Regions from separate parts of the Homo sapiens genome. Here all the other regions are linked to region 3. Evidence: fine-mapped expression QTL. A gene starts in region 3. Each other region holds a variant in brackets. All regions are shown on one strand. Distances are between the middles of the regions. Region 1 overlaps ZNF423 (zinc finger protein 423). Region 2 overlaps ZNF423 (zinc finger protein 423). Region 3 holds the start of ZNF423 (zinc finger protein 423).

Region 1 (8,175 bases), 210 kb before region 3:
TGCTGGCTCATGGGAAGCTGGAATTCATGCTCTCTATAGCCCCTGCCATATGAATATAAAGATCACCTTGTACAATACTCCAACCATCAAGACCATCTTCATGATAGACACAAAATGGCCTTACAGTGCTTCACAAAGTCCCCAAAAAGACTCCTTGCCACTCAACTGTTTCTTCAGAAAAATGAAAATTGCCAAGGAGACCAGTTCCCGACAGGACAAAGCTTTGTAATACACCAAGCAGAGCTTCTCTGCTGCCCCCATACAGAGCTCCAAGAATAGGAATCACTGTGGCCCTTCCCTAAGCTCAGAGGAATGGGACCCTAGACTCAGGAACCAACTACCCAATCCCACATGATACAGATGGAAAAGCTGAGGCCCAGAAAAGAGAAGAAAACTTACAAGCCCAGCTAATTGGTAGTGGTTGCCTAGAATCCTGTGTTCAGAAGGATTCCAAGGCCTTATCTCAGGTCCAAAGAAATGAGTGCTGCAATCAACTGATGATGTCTGCCATGAGCAGAGACATGTAGGAATGGAATAGTCAAAGGGCACTGAGCAAACTGGAAAGAGGAGTCTCCTGACTCCCAATGCTAGATGCTTTTCAGGTTTCCTCTTCCAAAAAAGGAGCTGTCCATTCTCTTTGAGAGATGAGGCTTTGGTGTTCCCAAAATCCTGTTGGTCACAGAGAGACAAGAGGCCCTGACAGATACCGTATGATATGGTTTGGCTGTGTCCTCACCCAAATCTCATCTTGAATTGTAGTTCCCATAATCCCCACTTGTGGTGGGAGGGACCTGGTGGGAGGTAACTGAATCATGGGGGTGGTTTCCCCCATGCTATTCTAGCGATAGTGAGTAAGTTCTCATGAGATCTGATGGTTGTATTAAGGGGCTTCCCTCTTTGCTCAGCTCTCATTCTTCTCCTTCCTGCCACCATGTGAAGAAGGACATGTTTGTTTCCCCTTCCAACATGATTGTTAGTTTCCTGAGGCCTTCCCAGCCATGCACAACTGTGAGTCAATTAAACCTCTTTCCTTCATAAATTACCCAGTCTTGGGTATTTATTCACAGCAGCATGAGAATGAACTAATATACTGTAGAACTGTGTTGGAGTCTGGAGAGGAATCTCCAGCCAGATAGGTCAGCTGTGACATCAGCTGATGGTGAGGATTGCCCAAAGTGGACACAAAGCAGCCCGGACAACCGAGGAGAGCCAGTCAGTGTTTCCTAGAGCCTGGGGTAATAAGAGCTGCAAGACCTGAATATGCTTCAGGGCACACTGTAGATTGTGGTTCCCACAGAGGTAGCCAGAGCCTAAGCAGGTGGCTTTCCAGACACGAAATGATCCAAATTGAGCTCAAGGGGCATCTGGGCATATTCCTGATCACTTCTTGGGAAACCAGGGGTACTTGCACACACCTGATGCCAGAACTAGCCATCCATCCCAGAATACTCCTCAACTCAATTACATCCCTGCCTGTAAAACTAGCATCAGTGTATTGAGGGCAAGAGAGGGTGCATAGCTCCTCCCTCATCTTATTTCACTGATGGAGAAACTGAGGCAACATGACAAGTCACAGGCAGATCCAGTGGTTACTGTTTATGGCACATTTTCTTTTCTTTTTCTTTTTTTTTTTTTTGAGAAGGAGTCTCGCTCTGTCACCCAGGCTGGAGTGCAGTGGCACGATCTTGGCTTCCTGCCACCTCTGCCTCCTGGGTTCAAGCAATTCTCTGCCTCGGTAGGAATCCTGAGTAGCTGGGATTACAGGCACCCACCACCACACCCGGCTAATATTTGTATTTTTAGTAGAGACAAGGTTTCACCATCTTAGTCAGGCTGGTCTTGAACTCCTGACCTTGCGATCCACCTGCCTTGGCCTCCCAAAGTGCTGGGATCACAGGCGTGAGCCACCACGCCCAGCTGTATGACACATTTTCTATGTGCCAGGTCCTTTGCCAGCTTTTTCTCAATTGATTCTCACACATTCCCTATGAGGTAGGTACTATTAACAACCCCTTTTTATAACTGTGCAAAGTGACACTCCAAGAAGGAAAGTAACTTCTGAGCGCACAGACATTGCAAGTGGCAGATGCCCCCACCCACTTACTAACCACCAGGCTACACTGCTTCACCAGGCCCTGGAGCCAGTCCAAGGCCCATATCCCTGCTGGACCTGCTCCCTCTTTCTTGAGGTCCACCATGCACAAGCACAGTACCAGGCCCCGTGACTTGAACCAGGTACAGGTCTTAAGCTTTACAACCCCACCTGCCATTGAGGCAAAGTCAGTGGTGGATGACCAGGCTAGGCTGGGTCTGATGCCAAGCACTAATGAATGTTGCTGGCCTCTTTCCTCACTGGATGGCAGGTAAAGTAGCCTGCTGCTTAAATAGCCTATGCAGAAGCAAACCTGGAGATTGTGGTAGGCAGAATAATAATTACCCCAAAGATGTCCAAGTCTTAACTTCCAAAACATATGAATATGTTACGTTACATGGTAAAATGGAATTAAGGTTGACAATTGGCTGACCTTAAAATAAAGAGATTATCCTGGATTATCCACATGGGTCTGTTGTAATCACAAGGGTCCTTAAATGTGCAGGAGGGAGGCAGAAGAGGAGGTTGAGGTGATGCAATATGAGAAGGACCCAACCAGCAATTACTAGTATTGAAGATGGAAGGAGGCCATATGCCAAGAAATGTGAGCAGCCTCTAAGAACTGGAAAGGCAAGGAAATGGATTTTTCCCTAAGAGCATCCAGAAAGGAATGCGGCCCTGCCAACACCTTAATTTTAACCCAGTGACATCTGGGTCAGACTTCTGACCTACAGAACTCTAAGATACTATTTTTTGTTTGTTGTTTTAAGCCACTGTGCTTATGGTAATTTGTTACAGCAGTAATAGCAAACTAATACAGATTTTGGTACCAGGAGTGGGGTGCTATGAGAACAAATACCTAAAATCATGGAAGTGGCTCTGGAATTGGGCAGCGATCAGAGGGTAGAAGAATTTTGAGGAGTATGATTTATTTAAAAGCCTAGGTAACCTTGAACAGATTAATGGAAACATAGATATTAATGACTCTGTTAATAAAGACTCAGAAGAAAGTAAGGAACACATCAGAGAAAACCTAAATCACTTTAGGAAATATCTAAATCATCATGAACAGACTATTAAGAGAAATATGGATATTAATAAAGGCACTGACAGTGAAACTGAAGGAAGGGGGATCCTTGATACTTGGTGGCAGAAAGCTAAGTGAAATTATGACTCACAGTTATGTGGGAAGCAGAACTTTCATGGATAAACTTGGATACTTAGCTAAGTAGATTTCCAAGCAAACTGTGGAAGGTATGGGCTGGTTTCTTCTTGCTGCTAAAAAGAAAAAAGATTAAGAAAAGAACTGTTAAGCAGGCCAGGCGCAGTGCTCACGCCTGTAATCCCAGCACTTTGGGAGGCTGAGGCAGGCGGATCACCTGAGGTCGGGAGTTCGAGACCAGCCTGACCAACATGGAGAAACCCCGTCTCTACTAAAAATACAAAAATTAGCTGGGCATGGTGGCACATGCCTGTAATTCCAGGTACTCCCAGCTATTCAGGAGGCTGAGGCAGGAGAATCGCTTGAACCCAGAAGGTGGAGGTTGTGGTGAGCCAAGATCATGCCACTGCACTCCAGCCTGGGTGACAGAGCAAGACTCCATCTCAAAAAAAAAAGAAAAAAGAAAAAAAAAACTCTAAGAGATTTACTTACAAGAAAGCATGCTCCGGAGAAAAAGCTGAAGGTAGGACTGCACATATTGCTAATATCTCAGGAAAATCAAAATGCCAGAGTATTGAGTATTCAGTCACAACAAAGGCTCTTTGGTGAGATTAAGGGTGTGACTCACAGATCTCCTAGATCAAATTAGAGAGCATCTAGGAAATTTGGGGGTATTGCTCTGGAGCAATCTCAGCAAAAGACAAAAGTAGAGAAGGGATTATCCAGGAAATATCTGTAGAGGACCATCTTGAATAATGGAGAAAATACCCATGACATACACAGGAGACTCACAAGGTTCTTGAAAAGTTTATACTGACAGAAACACTGCCAGCTTAAACCAAAAAGGACAGAGAGAGTACAGGATGAAAGAAGTCTGTTGGACACCCAAAACTTCACAAGCAGGAAACAGGTTAATAAAACTACTCAGATGAAAGTACATGCTACCTTTCATGGGGAAAAAAGGGATGACTAAGCGGGCAGAACCTCAAGCCCAGAGGGTGGAGCCATGAG[C/T]CATAGTGGATGAGATCACTACTGGACCAGGTTCAGATTCCAGAACTGTGTAACCATGGGCAAGCATATCCCCTCTTTGTGCTTTCATTTCCCCATCTCTTGATAGAGAGAATCCGACGAACAGGTCTCTAAGAGGCTTTGTAGCTCTTACAGTCTGTTATCACTTAATGATGTCTGTGCCTGCCCTGGGTACAGAGTAAGTCTCAGGTGGTAGGTATCCCAGCTCTCTACTATCTCCTAGTTCGGGTGGTTTTTTAATTCAGCACATATTTAGGATGCCTGCTCTAAATATCCAGTTTTCCAAAGGGTGTAGAGGTACCCAGCATTCTTAGGTTTCTATGCTCTTATCTGTCCAATCTCCGTGTCAATTAATTACTGTTTAAACATTAAACACTAAAGAAACCCTTTACTGCTTTGAAGTACACACACACACACACACACACACACACACAGGGAGAGAGAGAGAGAGAGAGAGAATCCCTTCAATTGTAACATCAGTACTGCACCTAGATATCTGACAGGAGAAGTGTAAAGGATTAAGTTTGACCCCTGGGACATCAAAAGTCCACCCTGGGAAAGGAAAGGGATGAGGCTATTGGAGGTTCTTTCCTCAGAGGTAAGCCAAGGAGCTCCACAAAGGTGACCAGAAGCTGACATGGCTCTTCCTGAAATCTCGAGTTAGAATTATGCTATTAGCAAAAATAATAGCAGCACCTATTCACTCATTCCTCCTCCAGGGAGCTGAGAGTTTCTTACGAATGGGATCTCATCATCCCCAAAGTATAAGCAAGGAAAAGTAGGGATCATTCCTTCGGTTTGGGAGAAAAAAGACTCAGAGGTCACTGGACATCTCAAAGACAGAGACTGACCAGGCCTGCCCTTCTCCAGCCAGCTCTGGGGGCTGCTGAAATGCCATGTGACAGTGAACAGCTGCCACCAAGGCCCTTAACAAAACTTCCAGGGACTCAAAACTTAGCTTAGGCTGCTAAGCTTGAAGAAACTCAGTCAATTGCAGGGAGACGTCAGCCCTGAGGGACAGCAGAGCCATGAGTAAGAGTGTGCACTGGCTTGCTCAGCCATCATTAGCTGTGAGACCATGGGAAAATTACTGCCCCTCTCTGAGTGCCCATGTCCTGGGGAAACTAAAAGTAACTACCTTACAAAGTGGTTAATGTTTACATACTGCTAAACATTGGATGAACATTGGCTAAATAAGATAAAGGGGTTCCTAATGTAACTGACACTATTATCATTCATCGTAAATCCCATAATCTACAGGGCATTTAACATTTTGCGCAGCACCTCACACCCATTATCCATTTGACATCTGGAGCAACTCTGTGCAGTGGTGGTGGTCATGGTGGTTTTGTTATTGTTATTATCCCCATATTACGAGTAAGTGGGGGGCCACACACCCAGGCATCCTGGGATGGAACCCAGCATCCCATTCAGTTAGTGAATCCCTCTCACCCTCATAAACAGCTGAGCTTACACAGTAAGTTGTGTGGTCACCCCAGTAATGAGGAAAAAGAACAGAGAGGTTAGGTCACATCCTGACATCACAAAGTGACTGGAAGAGCTAGGCCTGAACTTCCAACCCAGGGCTCTTAGCCAGCTGGACTGGGAGAAATGATGCCCTGAGCAATGGGTCATAGGTCATCATGGCTGTCCTCCCACTGGACAGTCTGGGGGCCACCCAGTTATCAGTATTAGTGATTTTGTGAAAATGCCAACATTTACAAATCAAGAATTCCCAACTTTTTGTTGTTGTTGTTCCTTAATTCACAGTCACTTTTGGCTTTTTTTTTTTCTTTTTTCTTAGAGACAGGGTCTCCCTCTGTCACCTAGGCTGTAGTGCAGTGATGCAATCATGGCTCACTGCAGACTCAACCTCCTGGGCTCAAGCGATCCTCCTGCCTCAGCTTCCCAAGTAGCTGGGACCACAGGTGCGTGCCACCATGCCTGGCTAATTTTAATTTTTTTTTTTTTGTAGAGACAGGGTCTCTCTATGTTGCACAGGCTGGTCTCAAACTCCTGGCCTCAAGGGATCCTCCTGCCTCAGCCTCCCAAAGCACTGGGATTACAGTCATAAGCCACCACGCCTGGCCCACTTACGGTTTTTCTTGAAGGAGAAGAAGGCCTGGGAGCACAGACTCTGCATCTGGCATGTGGAAGATGGAGCTCAGCTGGGGCTTCTTGGAGGAGGGACCCCCACCCCCCTGCATGCCCAGCACCCCAGGACTTCCCTCACCATTAGGGGGTGTCCCGGGCCTTGGAGACATCTGTGTTTGCCTGGTGGCTGAGAGCCGGCAGCAGGGCTTAGACTCCCAGCTCCCCCACTTACTATGTGTGTGACCTTAGCCAAGTGAATGACCCTTGCTCAATTTTACAGATGGAGAAACCTGTCTCAGTTTTCACATCTGTAAAATGGGGATGACTATTTATAGACCCAACTATAGAGTTGTTTTAAAGATGAAATCAGTGAATATCTGTAAGGCGTTATATATGACAAATGTTCTATAATGCCTAAAATAGTCACTGGCTACTGGCTCCCAAATCACCATAAGGTGGTCACAGGACAAGGAGAGGCTGGCAATGGCTGGAATGGTTTGAGGGGACACAAGACACAGTGTCACCTCCCTGAGCCCTGATTGATAACCAACAGGGTCTAAGCTAAACCTACAGTTACCCGTGCACAAGATGGTTTTCAAACAAAGCAAACTCAACCTGCCAAAATTCTCAGAGGGCCCCTGCCATTTACAATCCCAGGACATCAGCCCTGAAAGGAGCTTCAAGACCCCTCATTATACAGATGGAGCCCAACGCTCTCATTACACAAACAGAGAATCTAAGGTACTGGGAGCCATCCATGGCTTGGATGTGGGTCCCTCAGCTCATGGTGGAGGGGGTGGGGGATGAGGCTCAGACTCCCAGAACACTCCCTCCCCCGCCCCCACATGGCTGCTGGACATGCAGGGCAAGGACGCGTCCACCTTTCCCCTTGAAGCCTCTGACCTCGCAGAACACACAGCCTGCCAGGCAGCTCCATCCCTTAGACAAATTTACTTAGCACTGATATTGAAAATGCAATTGAGCTCGAGTTTTATTGCAGAAATTAAACAGACTAGGAAAGGGGAAAAAAAAAAAGCCAGTGCTCATCAGCTCACCCGAGAGCTGGCTGTGATCAAACTTGCTAAAGAGGAGCCTAGTGATCAACTCCTGCCAGCAAGGAAGAGCCCCCCAAGTCTGCCCCTACAAGGGACTCCCCAGGGGCACGAGGAGCTCAGGAGCTCCGGAAGGTTCTCCTGCCAGCCTCCTGGCGTGGACCTCCTGCGCACCCTGACATCGCCTGCCCGCCTCTTCACAAGGAGTTGGCGCCTTGTGAAGTCATCTCCGTGAGCTTCATGAAGCAACACCGCCAAGGGCCTGAGCAAAGGGCGCTCTGCTCCACTCGAGTGAAAGCAAAATGCTTTCGGGGTTGAATCACTGTTTTTCTTGACTCCCTTTGGAGATCGGCAGAGCCCACATTCGGCCGTGTTCGTGGACCTGGGACTGGAAACAGCTGCGCTCTAATTACATGTAAAGTGTACCAAAACATCCCTTTTATCACAGACTGGAAATCTGTTAGCATCTGCCTCTCCTTTGTTTCTTCCACAAGATACAAGCTTGTTTCTACATTTTTCTCACCTGTAGCAGTGATTAAAATTCATTATAAATGAAAGGAGTGAACAGAGAAACAAGTTCCTCTGTGTACCGTTCTAAACTCAAATTAGAAACAGCTGTTTGCTAATTCATGCAGTGATGTTTTGTCGTGCTCTGTGAATCAATAATAACTCACCCTATTGCTGCAGAAATTTTTGGATAATCCACATATTTAACGCGGCATTGGATTCTCCAGGCAGGGCTGCAG
Region 2 (8,175 bases), 120 kb before region 3:
GCCACCATTCTTAAAAGTGAGACTGAAAGACAGGAGAATCTCCTTGATTTGAAGGGCTGGAGGAAGGGGCAGCCTCTAAGAGCTGCAGGGACTCAAGAAAGCACAGCTTAGCAGAAGGTGTGGGGCCCTGCTCTAACAACTACACAGAATGGCCTATTCTCTTGCATTTAGAAAATAAAGAGAATAACTTTTCATTAGATCAATTAGTTGATTATAAAGTAAGTGGCAATATTTTATTCTCTTATAGTTAAGATTCCATGTTAATTCTTGGCTAAATCAAGAAATATACCAACATCTATAATATTATTCCTCAAGTAGGATGAGGGTCAATAGCTCAGTGTCCAGAGGAGGTCCTAGCTTGGCCACCAAACAGATATGTGACCCCGGCCAAGCAATCACCTTTTCCTCCCTTTGCCCTAGTATTTCCCTTGGGGAAGTGAGGAGACTTAAAAAGCTAACCTCATAGGTCCCTTCTAATTCTGATTTAGAATTGAAAATTAACCATCACCTCTGCCTCTGGTTGCAATATCACAAATTCCAAATGACTGGGGTTTGGATTACTGGGCCCCAAAATGTCCAAAACTGTAAGATTCCTCTTAGGTCTATTATTATTATTATTATTATTATTATTATTATTATTATTATTATTTTAAAAATATCTGTTCCTCCAGAGGTTGAGAATGGGAACTTGGTCTAGCCAGCCCTGTGCAGGCACAGATGTCACTAGAGGGCAAATCATAGCAGTTCCCCAAACACTTAATTTCAAAATTCCAAGATGATATGAGGAGTAGAAAAAGCAAGAGCTTTGGGTGCCAATCTAATCCCTACCAGTAAATGTTCCCCTCAACAAGTGATGGGTTCCCTTTAGAATGCAGGCCTGAGATTTCAGGCTTTCTTCCACAAACCAGTATCCAAGGAGCTTCATCAACAACCCTGATGGAAGAAGGTCTCTCAGGAAGACTGTGTAAGGAACACAGGTCCTATGGACTCCCTCTGCAGATCTCAGAGCCCAGAAATGTGTCATCCCTGTAGCATGGCTTCCACATCCCAGGGAATGCACATGCCCTCTGACTCCCCACCCCAATCACCCCAGACAAATACACATATACACACAAAACTCCTGAAGTCTTCAGTAGCTCCTAGAAAACTGGTCTTACACACCCTCTCCAAGGCACCAAGTAAATGGAGAACAGAGCTCCAGTCAAATCTAGCAGAAGCAGCTCCCAGCTACCCTTCTCCTCCTACTCAGAGAAGTGTGAGGTCAAGCACAGAGTTGGAAACAGGTCCCTTTTTCACGGGCTGTCCTTGGCCTTTGAAATTTCCTCATCCCATCAGAAGCTCTGCCTCGGAGCTTACTCCTTTATGCAGCTTTCCACACTTAAGCTGCTTAACTTTGCACTAACAACCTCTTAATTACTGCGTTTCCAAAAGGCCTTCCAGAAATTCAGGGTGCACATCCACCCATTCATGGCCTGAGTACCAGAGCACAGCTTGCGGGGAGAGGGGGCCGGGACAGAGCACCACCATCTAATTCCTGCCTGCCGGAAAGCTGTTGCTTTTATTTTTAATTGTATTTAAAAGGCGGATACAGGGTACCCAAGACACCACAATAAAATGACATTAACTGTAAAATTACATTATTAATTCTTTAATCTCACTTGAGGCTTCAAGCTGTTGCTATGTCCAATTACCCGTGTAACCACCTGTCAGAGTCCTGGGGCTGTTTTGCATTACCTCCAGGACAGCGGTGGGCCCGGTGGTCCGTCAGGTCTGCCAGAGACTCGAAGTCCTGCTGACAGTGATCGCAGGTGTAAATTGATTCATCCTCCATGTCTTCATCATCCTCATTTCTCTCCTCTTGACTTGTCACGCTGTTCCTGTCTTCCAGCGCACGGCTGGTTTTCTGATCGCACTCTGGCTCTCCTTCTAGGCCTCCTGCCAACAGGAAGAATACAGTCCATGTCAGCTGATGGGGTCTTGGGAAAGGGTTTTAAAAGAATCGCCCGGCATTTATTAAGATACATTTAATTACTCTACCTCCCGGGGTCCATTATCCTTGACACCTCTCAGTATATTAATAGATGGGGTTTTTTTGTAGCATGTGGTGCCATAATTCTCAACCAGATTCTTTAATTCTTGGTGCAAATCTTCTAGGGGGATTTCCTGTCATCTCCCCTCTGTGCACGGATGCTGGGGGCCGTGACCCATCGGAGAGGTGAAAAACCTTATTTGTCTCCTAAAAACCAGATTCAGTTACACACCTTTTTAAAGCCTCCATCAGCTGTTCCTAACACACCTAAACTTTTAGTTTTCCCCACAGCCTTGCAATTTAGAGCTGGGAGATCTCTTAGCCAAGTTCGCCTTCCACACAACAGGCCTCCCAGGGCAGTGACGTTGGCTCAGTTCTTTGCAAAGATGTCCAACTCTGAAATAAAGGAAGTACACATGTTTGAAGAACCATGGATGGTCGAATCTCAAGCTTAAAATGCATCCAGGCTGGGCATGGAATCTCACACCTATAATCCTAGCACTCTGAGAGACCAAGGTGGGAAAATTGCTGAAGGCCTGGAGTTTGAGACCGGCCTGGGCAATATAGCAAGACTCTATCTCTACAAAAAAAAAAAAATTTTTTTTTAATTAGCCTGGTATAGTGGTGTGTGCCTGTAGTTCTACCTACTCAGGAGGATTGCTAGAGACCAGGAGTTCGAGGTTACGGGGAACTATGATCGTGCCACTGTACTCCAGCCTGGGCCTGGACCCTATCTCTAAAAAATATAAAATAAAATAAATAGTGTCACCTGTGACCTGGTACAGGCCTAGACAGTTAGAATCAGTCGTGGAATGATCTCACTGATTTCTTTAAAATAAAACAGCTACTGTGCTTAGCACTGTGCAGAGAGTGGCTAATCTATAGGGAAAAGTGAATTCGTAATCATAATGATGCCTTGCAATTGTGCTGTGTTCCGTGCTTCTTCAAAGCCACCATTATATATGCACAGCCCCATTTCACAGTCTTGCATATCCTAAACTCAAAGAAGGCTCAAAGGATCATGTGATCCAACCCCCTGCAGAGAGGGACAGCTTTGTCTCACAGGTAAGGTACCTGGCATCCAACCAGAAGAAGCAACAGCCCAAGCACCCTACAGAGGCTCAGCTCAACTTCGTGACTCCTGGTCTAGTTCACTTCCCTGCACAACTGTGGGTAATGGAGCACAGCCCCAATCTTACAGATTAATAAGACACACCAGGAACTTGTAAATCAAAGTGCAAAAGCGTGTGGTAAATATAACCCACAGAATATATCAGTAATCCTAATAAATGTCAATGGATAAAATTTGTGTGTTAAAATGCAGAGACCCTCGGATTGGAAAATAAAAGTGTGTGTTGTCTCTTCCCACAGCCTGTCCTGGAAAACAGATTTACCCATCCGGAAACTAGCTGCACTGATTTAAATCAAAGAAAGAGATCTTATTATCCATAAAGGTGTTTTTGAAAGCATATGTACATATGCAAAAGTGCGTGTATGTGCACCTGTATGTACATGTGTGTACATGCAACATCACAGTTACAGGAAAAGGCTCAGTGCACAACCTGCAAACCCCTGAGGGCGGGCGCCAAAGCAAGAAAGACAGACACGAAGCAAAGAATGCACTCAATTCAAGGTGGAAACCACAGTCCTGTGAATATTTCAATTTGGAAACAGATAATGTTATAAGGGCTCTATTTCTCCTGTCTGCACAGAACATGCCCTTCCAAGCACCCGACATCAAGAACCTGGGAACACAAATCGGCTCATCGGAGAGCCAGCTGCTTCCTTCCAAGGC[G/A]GGGAACGTTGCACGACACGCCGCCTGGAACTGCGCGGAGGCAGTAAAAATCAATGTTTCCATTTGTGGCCCATCAAAACATCTCTCTTCTTACCAATTAAGGGATGTACAGTTTTTAGGTTCTTTTATTATCAGAACGCGCCAACTCCTGGCAATACAGAAATCCCATTAAAAGTCAGGCAGCATATTTATCTCAGGGAATCTGATCTGCCGCTGCAGTGAGGGTAAGAAATAGAAAGCAAAGAAATGAGAAATATCATTTGGAGCCTTCGATATTGTAAGTCATCATACAACCATGGTTACACAGTCAAGTGCCCGTCTCCGAAATTCCTCGTTTACAGTCTTTCCTTAATAAAAAAAAAATGTTCTGTAGAAAGGGAAAATAAAAGAGCCATAATTCTGGCTTTATCTACTACACCGACCCTCCAGATAATAAGTTACAATCAGCACCACACTTGTGCTACTTTACTTAACACACAATTTAATAGACATATTTAAATTATCCCCTCGTTATTTTTTTGCCGTATTTACTTGGCAGCACTTTCTATAATAGCTCATCTAATCCACAACTGGAACCACAAACATCACAATGTATTTGATCTCTTTAAATCTGGTACATCCTGTTGACTCGGGAGTAGATAAATCAGAATGTCAACTCTCAGGTTTTTATAAGGCAAAAACCCATAAAGTCATCCAAGAGTATAAATCTGTTTTAAGCAACTGTCACCTCCCCTATGGCCGGCTACTAATGGGAAGGGAGGGTGGCTGTGCAGAAAGGGATGGAGACGAAGGCGAGCTCAGGCCACACAAAGGCGCGGACCTCATCCTCTGGGCTCCCAAGGGGTCCCAGCCTGGCCCTCAGGGAGGTGACACAAGACAGGGAAGACTCAGGGGCCTGAAGAAGTTTTGGGGAGTGGGACTTCCCTGAAGACCCAAGGGCCCCTCTGCTGATTCAGCAGAATCAGGCGCTGGAGAACAGGAAGGCCTCCACCCCAGGCAGGGTTTGCCTCTTGCAATGCACTTTCATGCCCAGGAGTTTCTGAACCTCACCATAAGACAAAAGAATAAATGGTGTTATTTTTCCATTTGCAGATGAGAAAACTGAGCCTCTGCAAGGCCACCCAAAGCCATGCCAGGATCGAATCTACACGTTCACGTGTTCATTAAGCAGCACACCTTTCCTGAAGTCCCTGGGCCTGTTGGAGCCCCAAGCTCTCCAAGGCCCAGGAGGCAGAAGTTCTAACAACAGGGAGCTCCAAGGACATCAGACCTACCTGGAGACCGTCTGGGGTTCCTCTTTTCCAGGCCCACCTGATCGGTTGCTCAGTAAGTCCTGGGGATGGAATGATTGGACCTTCCCTACTCCTTCAACCCAGCTCCGCCTGTCCTGTGTGCTGCTCTGTCCAGCCCCAGAGGCCCCTCAACTGGTCCCTGTCCTGAGTCTGGACATCACCTGTGCAAACTCAGAGAACATAGGGCCCAGAGGCCCAGCACCTGGCCCTGCCTTGTGAGTCCCATCACAAGCGCTGGCTCATTTCAATGACCTGGGCTAGAACTGCAGCTCACTGGTTCCTCCAATCACCCCAGAGCCCAGTGAAGCAACTTCAACAGGCCGAGGAGAAGGCCAATGGCTCAATGCTTTTCTGCAGAGGCCTCCAGGGCTGGGGAGGGCTTCCCGAAAACAGCCGGCTGGCTCCTTTCCCTCTGGCTCCTCCCCTGTCCTCCTGGGGGCTGTCTGCAGCAGCATGAAGACAGCTCGCTCAGGGAAGGCCCGAGCCAAATGGATTTCAAATCAGGGACCTCTCCCTCAGGGCCATGTGCATGGGACAGAAACCGAACCAGTGCTGTGAACGCCGACCTGTCCGTCCAGCTGACAAGATTCCCTACCTCCCAGAGCTCATGCTTTCCACGATGGACAACTGTTTTCTGATGTGCACACCTGCATCCTTTTGCCCAGGCATGCCCCAAGAACAGTGAGCATTGATTAAGCACTCAATGCTTAATCAAGTGCAGGCACCTTATGAGTTGATGTCATCATATCCCCATTTTACAGGTGAGGAAAGCAGAGCTCTGGGAAGTGACAGAGCTTAAGTGAGGCCACAGAGAAGTGGTGGGGCTGAGTTTCAAGCCCACTGCATGTGACTCTTAACCACTCTACTACATGGTTTCCTCACAGTAAGACGCAATGAACACCTGAGCCAGGTGTTGGGAGTTTGTAAAACCCCTCAAAGTCCCATGTAGGGTCCTGGTCACAGCCCCTAAGGTTCAGCAACGGCTCTGCTGATCTCTCTCACTTATCGCCCATCTCCACAGCCTTGAAGGTCATCTTTCAACCCCATAAACTTCCAAGTCTCTTTGGTCCAGGGCTTCCCACTCCTGATCTCCAGCAGGAAGATTTCCGTTAAGTCTTCACACAGTTCCCAAAGATCTCCACCAGCCTGGGCACCTACGGAAGTTGGGGCCCCATTACTCTTTCCCCAGGGCTCTCTTCCCTTTGCAGTCAGAGCTCTCAGCATCACGTGCACTCATGCTTTTGTGGGCTAATTTGTCTACTTTCTCTCTCCCTTGGCAGGCTGCATTTTCCACAGACTGCCACAGCAATATCTCCCACCCCACCTGCCCTTCTGCAGGGAGACCTTGACTCCCTCATCATAACGAGGGACCGAATTCTCCTCCACAGTCCCCCTCGGGGCTGGCCAGACTCAGTGGCTCCTTGACCAACAGGATGCAACAGAAGTGCTATTCTAGACTTCTGAGGCTAGGTCAGAAGGAGGCTTGCAGCTTCCCCCTGCATCTCCTGGGACACTCCCCCTTCAAGCCCAGCAGCCATAATATATGAAGCCCAAGCCACATGGAGAGAGAGCACATAGGGGCTCCAGTCAACAGCTCCCAGCTTCCAGCACCGACTTCAGCCATGGGAGCACACCATCTTGGACATCCCACCCCAAGAAGCCTTTGGATGACAGCAGCTCCAAACACCATGCGGCTGCAACTGTACAAGAAACACCCAGTGAGACTGCCAGCTGAACCCAGTTAGCTCATAGTACTGTGAGAAGTAGTAATAAATTATTGCTTCAGGCCATTACATTTTGGGATGGTTTGTTACGTAGCAATGGATAGCCGACCTTCTCGCCCCACACCGGACTATAAGCTCCATGAGGGCAGGAGCTGTGTCTAATTTAGCTCAGTGCCACCTCCCCCAACCCTGGCATACAGAGGGACATATAGTAGGGGCTCAATAAATGTTGAATGAATGGATGAGTGAATTAATTGATTGGTTTCAAAAAAGCAGGCCTCTGAATCCCCACACAGGTAGAGGCAGAAGGAGGGGAAGGGGCCACAGTGCAGTTTATTGTCTGACGATAAGTATTAGATTGAATCATATAAAGGTGCCATTTTTTAGGTCAAAAAAGTTGAATATTGGCAATCTCAAATGGCTCAGCCTCACATATGACGAGGTTGCCCTGTCCTGCCAGCTTCTTCCTGCAGCCAGGAGGAAGAGGGTACACCCACACCAGGAAACCCCACTACACCACACCCACCCAAACCCAGCTTCCCTGAACCCAAGATATGGACTTGGGGGACATTCTATGAGCAAAGAGAGGCAATAACAAAACCTTTCACCTCAATCATGTTTCGCTGGAAAGCACTGAATTTTCAGGCCAGTCACAATGGCTTACGCCTGTAATCCTAGCACTTTAGGAGGATGAGACAGGAGAACCTATGGAGTTTGAGACCAGCCCAGGCAACACAGTGAGACCCCATCTTTACAAAAATTTTAAAAATCAGCCAGGCATGGTGGTGCACGCCTGTGGTCCTAGCTACTTGAGAGGCTGAAGCAGGAGGATCGTTTCAGCCCAGGAGTTGGAGGCTGCAGTGAGCCGTGTTCGCACCACTGCACTCCAGCCTGGATAACAGAGCAAGAGTCTCAAAAAATAAAGTAAAAGTAGTGAATTTTCCCACCTCACTGAGCTACTGCCCTTAAGAAAGGGCTTGCATTCAAGATGATGACGTTGAGAGCAGACAGCGGACCCTGCAGAAACGCTGTGCAGCAAGACAGATGGCCCCATGCCCTCTAGAGGGAAGGAGCAGCAGAGGCCTTGCCAGGGACAGAGGGCCTTGCCAGGGACAGAGGGAGGTGGCACAGCCTCCCCTACACCCTGAGGGGAGCTGAGTATGGTGTGAGCATCTCCTGGTACCATTTTACACTCACACTGCCCCATTTCGATGAGGACAGAAACTCTATGTGGTAGGTACAATGGATATCCCCATTCTGCAGGTAGGTGCAATGGACTCACCCACTTTGTCAATGAGGAAAAAAAAAAAACAAGGCTCAGGAGCCCATTCAAAG
Region 3 (8,175 bases):
GGGGAGAAAGGTGTAGGGAGGGAAAATCGGTCAGAAAAATGTGACTTTTATAACACTCCCGGCTTTAGGGTTGTTTTTTTTTAAATAAAATTACAAGGCTTCTGAAAACCAATGAGGCTATTCTCCCCCCTCCCCTAGTGCCCCAACCCCCTTCCCTATTTACTAGGTGTCCTCCCTGTGAGCTGGGTTTTCCAAAGAAGGACAAACACACTGCGGGGACAAGGGACCCCACTCCAGAAGGGAGGTTGTGTCCGTGAGTGGGAAGTGAGACCACCCCAGCCCCCAGAGGCCAGTTTTATTTTCAAAGCAGCAATGCCTGTGCTTTCAAATCACACTTTCTGAGCATCCATTCGAAATTGTTGTATTTCTGTCTTTCCTTCCTGCTATGGACTTTCACATTTCCGAGATCAACTACAAATTACAGTCAAGCGACTTTCACAGCAGAATGCTCGGGGCCGGGGAAGTCCACAAAGCCTCTACATTAGCCCTGACACACAGCAGTGGAGGCAAAATAAAATAAAATAAAATGTAAAAGACACCGCTGTTCCTTAAGAAGCACTTTCAAGCATCTTTAAAGGTGAAGACCTTGTCGTTTCAAACACTTGGTGTGGAGCTGTCCACACTCAAGCACACACTTTTGAATATTGCTTAAGAGAAGGGGCGGGGCGGGGGGGGAGCAGTTCTTGAAAAGCAATAAATCCCTCACCTGCTGGAACTCTTATCTATCCAAATTATCTTCTCTCTTAATTCCTCCCTTGATAAGTGGCCACATCTCCACCCTCTTCACCCCAGTAAACAGAATAAAAGGTAAAATGGTGAGAGACAAGGGTTGTAGCTGCTTTTGGAAAATGCAAAAAGCCATGGGAAGAATCAGGGGGTCTCTGACTCTGCGGACAGAAAGGCTCTGTGTGGCTGATATTTACAACACCGAGTCTCGAAATGCCTCCACTGGTCTCCTGTTCACCTTGCTGCCTTTCTCCTACCAACCTGCTTGAACTGTCTGCTACACATACACACATACACATTTGAGAGAGGCACTCACTAAAAATCATTTCAAGGCTCATTTCATGAAAGGCTGAAGACCAATTCTTGAGTCCTTCTCAGAGATCCACAGAGTGGTTTTAGAACTCGGTTCAAGCAACTTTGAAACACCCACCCATCTGTTCACTGCAAACTGCTCTCCTTTTGCTTTCTGGGTCTCGCCGTCTAACGTAAGGAGGTTTGGAGAAGTGGATTGGAAGTCTAGGTAAGCAAGCTTTGCAAACTCAAAATCAACTGCCTGAGTTAAATAAAACTGTTTTTCCAACCAGAAATTCCAATTCCACATTTTCTTCTGGGTCGCCTCTTAAGTGGCTCCTGAAGGAGTGAGCAGTGAGCCAGGGAAAGAGAAAAGAAATCCAGTATTATTTCAAGCCGTACAGCCCTTCCATCAGCAAAAGAGAAACATCCACCCTTCTTTCCCGTCCTCTTCTTGGAGTCTCTCTTCTGGTTTCCCTGTCCCCCAATCAGAACACCCTCTGAACCCCCAGTTCTGTGGAGCAGGCCAGGCTGTCCCGGATTGGGAGACCAGCCAGGGTGAGGCGAACAAGACCAACTTCTCTCAGGGAAAAGGAGGAGTAGGAACGGGCCGGGCGCTCCGTTTGGACTCAGTTGGTCTCCTTCTAATATGACGGGGAGGATCTCTGCTGGGCCGGGGGCAGTCCCTCCGGGGACTTCAGGAGGACAGAACTGACGAGTGTCTCAAGATCCTCCTTGCCAGATTCAGTTCCAGCCATTCCAGCCAGGCGCAAGGCTGGCAGGAAGGGAGCGGGGCCCCAGCGCCTTCCCGCGCAGGCCTCCAGGAAATGAACTTTTCAGAGCAGAACTGGGCTCAGGCCAGAGGTCATCAGGGGAGATGGGAGAAGACAAGGGCCTGGGGGCTTTTGGCTCCGTAGACTTAGCCGCTCTCATCGTTCCCCCCTTCCTCGATCATCTCCCATCTCACAGCCGAGCGCCCGGGCACCCAACCGAGGGGCTAGAATCGGGACAAAGCAGCAGGCAAGGCCTGGAAAGGCCAGCCGCGGGGAGAGGAGGCCAGGGGAGGGGCTCTGCTGCCGGCGCGCGGCCTTTCCCCGGGGCCTCTACTCTCCAGGGGTCCCCTCGAGCTGGGGGCCCTCGCTGGAAATAGAAAGCAAAGCGTGGAGACGAAGGGATGGGTGTGTGTATCTATATATCTGCAGCTCCCCACAAACGCGCGCACCCCGGGGAGCCAGCACAGAAAGCCGGCCTGGGTGTCGAGGGTGCCGGTGCCCGGGGTCAGATCCAGGGTGCCGGTGCCCGGGGTCAGATCCGGGGCGCCCTCCGCGGAGGGGCGCGCACCGCGGCCGCTGAGCTCCCCTGAGGACCTGCGTCCCGCCGGCGCCGTGCAGACAATGAACTCCTGGCGGAGGCTCCCTGCCCGGTGGGCCTCGGTGGAGGAGGCAGGAAGTGCAGGGGCCCGGGCCGGGAGAAGGCCTGGGCAGGGGCGGGAGGGGGCGCCAGGCGGCCGGGGCGAGGGCGCGGCGCCCGGGGCGCTCGCCGACAGCGCCCGCCGCTCCCCGCGTCCTCGGGCGACCAGGCAGGGGCCAGAGAGAGCCAGCGAGGCCCGGGGCCAGCGAGGAGCGGTCGGCCTGCCGGGCGCCCGTCCTCGCCGCCTCTTCCTTCCTCCTGTCGCCCGCCCGCCGCCGCCGAGATTCGCAATCCCCGCCAAGTCGGGCCAGCACCCCTTGATTGGCCACACGGGCCCGGGCCCCGCACGGAGGGAGCGGCAAGGGCCCCTTAGCGGCGCCCCCAGGCCTGGGTCCCCCAAGGGCGACGGCGCCGAGTCCGGGCAGGGAGGGTGTCCGCGGCGTACCCCCTCCGCCGCCGCCGCCGCCGCCGCCGCCTCCGCCTCCTGCTCCCGGCTTCCTCCTCCCCCTCCTCCGCCTCCGCCTCCGCCTCCGCCTCCTCTGCCGCCTCCTCCTCCTCCTCTCGGCTCGCTCGCGCGGGTCCCCGGCAGCCAGCCCGCTCGCCGGTCCCTCCTCCCTCGCTCCCTCCCTCCTCGCTCGCTCGCTCGCGCCTCCGCCGGGCCTCGCTCGCTCACCTTTCACCGAGCGCGGCTTCGCCTGCTTCCGCCTGGACATGTCCGGGGCTCCGGGCGCTCCGTCGCCCTCCGCAGCCGGCTCCCCCCGCCGCCCCCCGCCGCTCCGGGCAGCCCTTCTCCCCCTTCTCCTCCGCCTGTCTCTTGGAAACTTTTTTTTTTGCAGCCCGGTTGGCGGCTGTGGGGAGCGGACCGCAGGTCCGGGGCGGCCTCCCTTGGGGGGGCAGCCCGGGCCGGCCGAGGCCGCTCGAAGGCGGGGGGAGGCCCGGGGGGCGCGCCGGGGCCCTGCCTGTTGCAATGCGGCAGTCCGGGGCTCCCGATCCAAGCGGCGGTCCCAGCGGCGCGGGGAGTCCGGAGGCCACTCGGCCGAGCCGAGTTATGCAAAAAAAAAAAAAAAAAAAAAAAAAAAAAAGCCGCCCCCCTCCTCCTCCCAACCCCCCGCCGGCCCCCGGCCCCTGCGGCCCCCTCCTTCCCTCCCCCACCCTACCGCCACCCTCACCCTCCTCCTCCTTCTCCTCCTCCTCCGCCCCTTGCCGGATTTTTGTGCAAAGTTTGCAGGCGTCCGGCCACGCAGCCCGGTGCGGAGCTCACAATGAACCCATCTGAGGAGGGGGAACGGGGCTGGAGTCGAGGGTATCTCAAGGGGGGAGGAGACCGGGAGGCGGTCGGGAGCGCGGAAGCTCAGTACCCCCCAGGAAAAAAAAAAAAAAGAAGCCTTCGAATTATCCCCTGCCGCACAAAAAAAAATAATAAATATTAATGGCTCAAAAATGCCCAAGCGCCTGGTTTGGAGATTATGATGGATGGGGGGCGGGGGTCCCTCAACTCAGCCTACTTGGAGGGGAGGCTCGAAACGGCCGCAGTGGCTCGGAAGCCGCGGCTCGGGGCCCCTGGCTCACGCCCCCTTCTCTGGCTCTCGGATCGGCCCGGCGCCGGCCCCCCGGAGGAGGAAGGGGCGCGCGGGGGCGCTCAGGCGGCGGCCGGCAGGCGCGCCCGTGCCCCGGGCATCGCTCAGCCCGTGCGCCGGGCCGCCGCTGCCTGCCCTCGGGCTGCGGTGCTCAGCGCGAGGCGCGCAGCCGATCCCCAGGCCGGTGCCAAGTCGCCGGCCCCGCTAGCTGCCTCCATGGGCCAGGGGCTCGGAGAGGGGGGAGGCGGCGGCCGCGGTGGCGGAAGAGGAGGACGAGCAGGCGGCGGCGGCGGCGGCCGGGCTCCCGTCCTCCTGGGCAGCGGCGGCGGCGGCTGCGCCCCGGCTCCTCCGCGCTCCAGCCGGCGCCGGCCCGCCCGCCAGCCTCCCTCGCGCTCCTGTCTTCTTTGTGGTCGCTGGCTCTCCTCCTCCCGATCCGGCTGCTGGGGCTGCACTGCAGAGACACATAATAAAGCCAGGCTTGGCTGGAAATGTAGCCGGGTCCCAGCAGGAGGATGTGAGGAGCGGAGTCCCGGCGGGGGAGCGCTCTGATCCCGTGGGGCGCCCCGCACTGCTCCGGCTCGGATCAGACGGAGAGAGGGCCAACAGCACCGAGCGATGGACAGCGCTGGAAATACAGCTCCGGCCGCCCGCAAAACCCGGACCGTGGTGGCGGCGGCGGCGGCGGCGGCAGGCACGGCGCGGGCGCGGGCACCGCACCAGCACGCGGGGCCGGGGCTCGGGCGCTGGCTGCACCGGGGGCAGGAGGAGGGAACACACTTAGGGCCCACGCGGCTGTCAAGCTCGCCAAGACGCATGAGCCTCACAAACTGTAAAAAGTGAAAGAATGGGGGAGCAAACGGAGTTGGGCTGCCCTAGTATTGCCACCTCGCGATGTATGCCTCACGCACATGAACTATCCAGGGACCTGGCTCTGCCAGGTTGGCTTTTGCCCACCGGTCGGTGTTCAAAGACCACCCCTGCCCCACATCCAACAAATTCTTCCACCACTGGGCTAACCCCGTGCGCCCCCTACACCCTTATTTGTAGAATTCTCGCGCCTGGTGTGCACTTCCTCTGTCCGACTGTAAAAGGAACACCTTACCCCTGAGACCTTGCAGGAGCACCCCCTCCCCGCGCAGTTGTCAGAAGAAATAAACCAGCTGCTACTTTCTGCGAGGTTTTACCCAGCCGCCAGGGGGCGCCGCGCGTCCCCCGCAGCTCCTGAACCGGCTGAGACTCTGGTCTCCGGGCAGGCCCGGGAAGGGTTCTGACTTGGGAAAAGTCTTCCCCAGACGGCTCCCCTAAACCGTTCCTCGGAGCCTCTCCCTCCCCAACTAGCTGCAGGCGGCCAGGTCTCGGGTGGGGAGCGGCCCCGACCTCGCCCCCCTCCCGGGTGAGTGGCGCCACCTTGGGCCGGCGCGCCCCGGAGCCAGGAGAACGGAGCGGGTGCACGGCGCGGCGCTGGGGGTTATCAATCTCTCGGATCGATAAGTTGCCACTTGGAGAGGGGAGGGCTACGTCCCCTCGGAGACGAGTTACCCAGGGCAACCTTTCACGGAAAAACCCGCTGCCCGCCGAGAACAGCGCCGGGGCCGGCCGGGCCGCGGCGCCCGCCCCACGCAGGGTGCCCGCGCCCCGCCGCTCCCCAGCCTGCCGGCCAGCCGGGCCCGGCCCCGCTCAGCTCTCTCCGCGGTCCCGCCGGGCCCTGCTCGCCAACCCCGTGCTGGGCTGATTGCCGAGGTAGATGCCACCCACGCACCCCCGCGGCTGGGGAGCGCGAGCTGGAGGATGCGGAGAGGCCTGAGGCAGGGGGGCCAGGCGCGCGCGCCCTAGGCAGTCTCAGAGGTAGAGTCGGGTGACGGGCTAAACGCGACGCCTAGCTGGACACCCTGACAGCGGCAGCGGGCGAGCGAGGCTCCCCAGAGGGGCGGAGGCCAGGACCGAGACGTCCCCTAACTAGACCTAAGCCTTGAGGGCCGCCCCTCCCCAGGTTAGCGCTACCATCCCCAGGCCACAGTCCTCCCCAGCTTGTGCGTCCAAGAGTGTCCAACATCTCGGCCTTCCCGGAGGGAATAGGAGCCCCCCCCCCCACGCCCCCGCGGCCCAGGGATGGACGGAGTTGGGCTGAACCGGGGGTGCCAAGGGCCGAGGCGAGGGCAGGGGCCGCGAGGCGCCTGGGAAGGAGCCAGGAAGGAGGGGCAGAATCAGCCGCTCCCCCACCCCCGCCGGCGCCTGGGATCGAGGCCCGCGGAGAGTGGCTGACAGGCGGCAGATGGCACACGCTGGGGGAGGGGGACGATTGGCCTCGGCTCTGGGGTGCCCCCGCCGCGGGCTGCCTCTGCTAGAGGTAGGGGGCGGGGAACGGCCCCCAGCTCGCCCGCCCAGGCTTTCTGGGGGGCTGGAGATTGCGGATCCTGCCCAGCCGGGAGTCTGGAGAGTGAGGGGGCGGACAAAAGGAGCGCGGTGGGGAATGCGTGTGCGGGACGAAAGAGGGGCCGTCGGGGGAGAGGGGTGGTTGGAGTCCCACGGGGCTGCCCTTTTCCACCCCTAGGGGCCTGCTGAAGACTGAGGACGGAGGTGGGGGCAACAGGATGGGGAGCCCGCAATAGCCCATCCTGACCTAATCCGAAAGGACGAGATCCTGGAGCCGCTCACAAAGTTTTCCGGGCCCCCTCCCACGCGTCGCCTGCACGTATGTCCGTTTCCCGACGCTCCGCCCTCCCCCGCCAAGTTCGGCGTCTCCCAGCTCAGCGGCAGTCAGGGTGCAGAGGGAGCCCGACCTTGTCCCCGCCTCGGCCCGTCCCGCTTCTTCTGAAGCTTGTTTCATTTTTAACTCCTTCCAGAAAAATGTTGTTTTAAGGAAAATCTCAAAGGAACAAAAAGCCAATAGTGCCTTCCTTATTTGCAATCCCCACCCACCTCTGAGCTCGGACTGCAAGGGCCTCAAGGGACACCAGGTGACACCTGGGCCTTGCTTCTCACGGGTGACCTTGGACCAGAAAGGGTCATTTTCAGGTGTGTTTTATACCCCCCACCTGCCTACTTCTGGCAGGGAATAGGGGGTCCAGTCCCCTCCCCTATGAGAAGGGGCCCCTCTGGGCTCTCCTTCTTCGCCGGAAAGTGAACAGCTGCTCCTGCCCTGCTTGGAGGAGTGGCTGTGGAAACCCACTGTAAGCTGTAAGGAGCAGGAGCCACCATCATAAATGCAAGAGAAATTCCAAGTTGAGGTTTTTGAGAACAAGTAAGACTTTGCCCACAAAAAGGTGCATCTTCCTTCAAAGTCATAACTTGGCTGGAAGAGGGGAAACCTCTTGCCCAAGGCGGTGCCTTCCCCAACCATGCTCCTTAAGAATGTTTTTCCTACATGTGCAGCAACTGAGGCTTCTTCCTTGAATTTTCAAGAGGCAGGCGTCATTTTGAGCAGTCTGGTGAATGCACGAGGGTCTGGTGGGCTACAAAAACAAGATAGGACAATAAAGAAAACAAGGCAGTGTTCACTTTGTGGCCTCAGACCTATGATCCCTGCAGAGCTCCCAGAGTTGCTCAAGGGATGCTTTCCAGTAAGTGACCAAATGCCCACCTTGGCCAGGTGCCGTGGCTCACACCTGTAATCCCAGCGCTTTGGGAAGATGAAACGGATGGATCACCTGCTAGGGAGGCCCTGGCTTATGCCTGTCATCCCAGCACTTTGGGAGGCTGAGATGGGTGGATCATCTGAGGTCATGAGTTCGAGACCAGCCCCAGCAACATGTTGAAACCCTGTCTCTACTAAAAATACAAAAATTATCTGGGCATGGTGGCACGTGCCTTGGTGGCATATACCTGTAGTCCCAGCTACTCGAGAGACTGAGGCATGACAATCACTTGAACCTGGGAGGCCGAGGTTGCAGTGAGCTGAGATCATGCCACTGCACTCCAGCCTGGGTGACAAAGTAAGACTCCATCTCAAAAAAAAAAAAAAAGAAAAGAAAAAGAAAAAACAAATGCCCACCTTTTCCCCTTCCAGGCACACACACATCACTTACTTTAAATGACAACAGTCACTTGAATATATACGATCTGGAATGAGTGGTTTTTGTTTACTGCTTTATTACTTGAAACTCCCAGTCCCTACTGTGGAGAATTTGCATCAGCCTATGAGGAGCAGTCATTTTGGGGAGGGATGATTTAT

What was found.
Region 1: its variant is fine-mapped to the expression of ZNF423 in testis (GTEx, PIP above 0.99).
Region 2: its variant is fine-mapped to the expression of ZNF423 in sigmoid colon (GTEx, PIP above 0.99).

Annotation. Positions count from the first base shown.
Region 1 is chr16:49,644,953-49,653,127 of GRCh38, forward strand. All of the region lies in intron 3 of ZNF423 (zinc finger protein 423), which reads right to left. Among named protein-coding and RNA genes, the nearest start is that of LINC02179, 180 kb to the left of the region's middle. RefSeq lists an enhancer at 3,071-4,270. The variant C/T (reference allele first, on the strand shown) is at 4,266.
Region 2 is chr16:49,729,037-49,737,211 of GRCh38, forward strand. It overlaps ZNF423 (zinc finger protein 423), which reads right to left. Exons shown (of 8, transcript NM_001379286.1): 3 at 1,735-1,935. Among named protein-coding and RNA genes, the nearest start is that of ZNF423, 120 kb to the right of the region's middle. The variant G/A (reference allele first, on the strand shown) is at 3,825.
Region 3 is chr16:49,852,635-49,860,809 of GRCh38, forward strand. It overlaps ZNF423 (zinc finger protein 423), which reads right to left and starts at 3,478. Exons shown (of 8, transcript NM_001379286.1): 1 at 3,101-3,478. The coding sequence starts at 3,140. RefSeq lists a silencer at 2,722-2,981.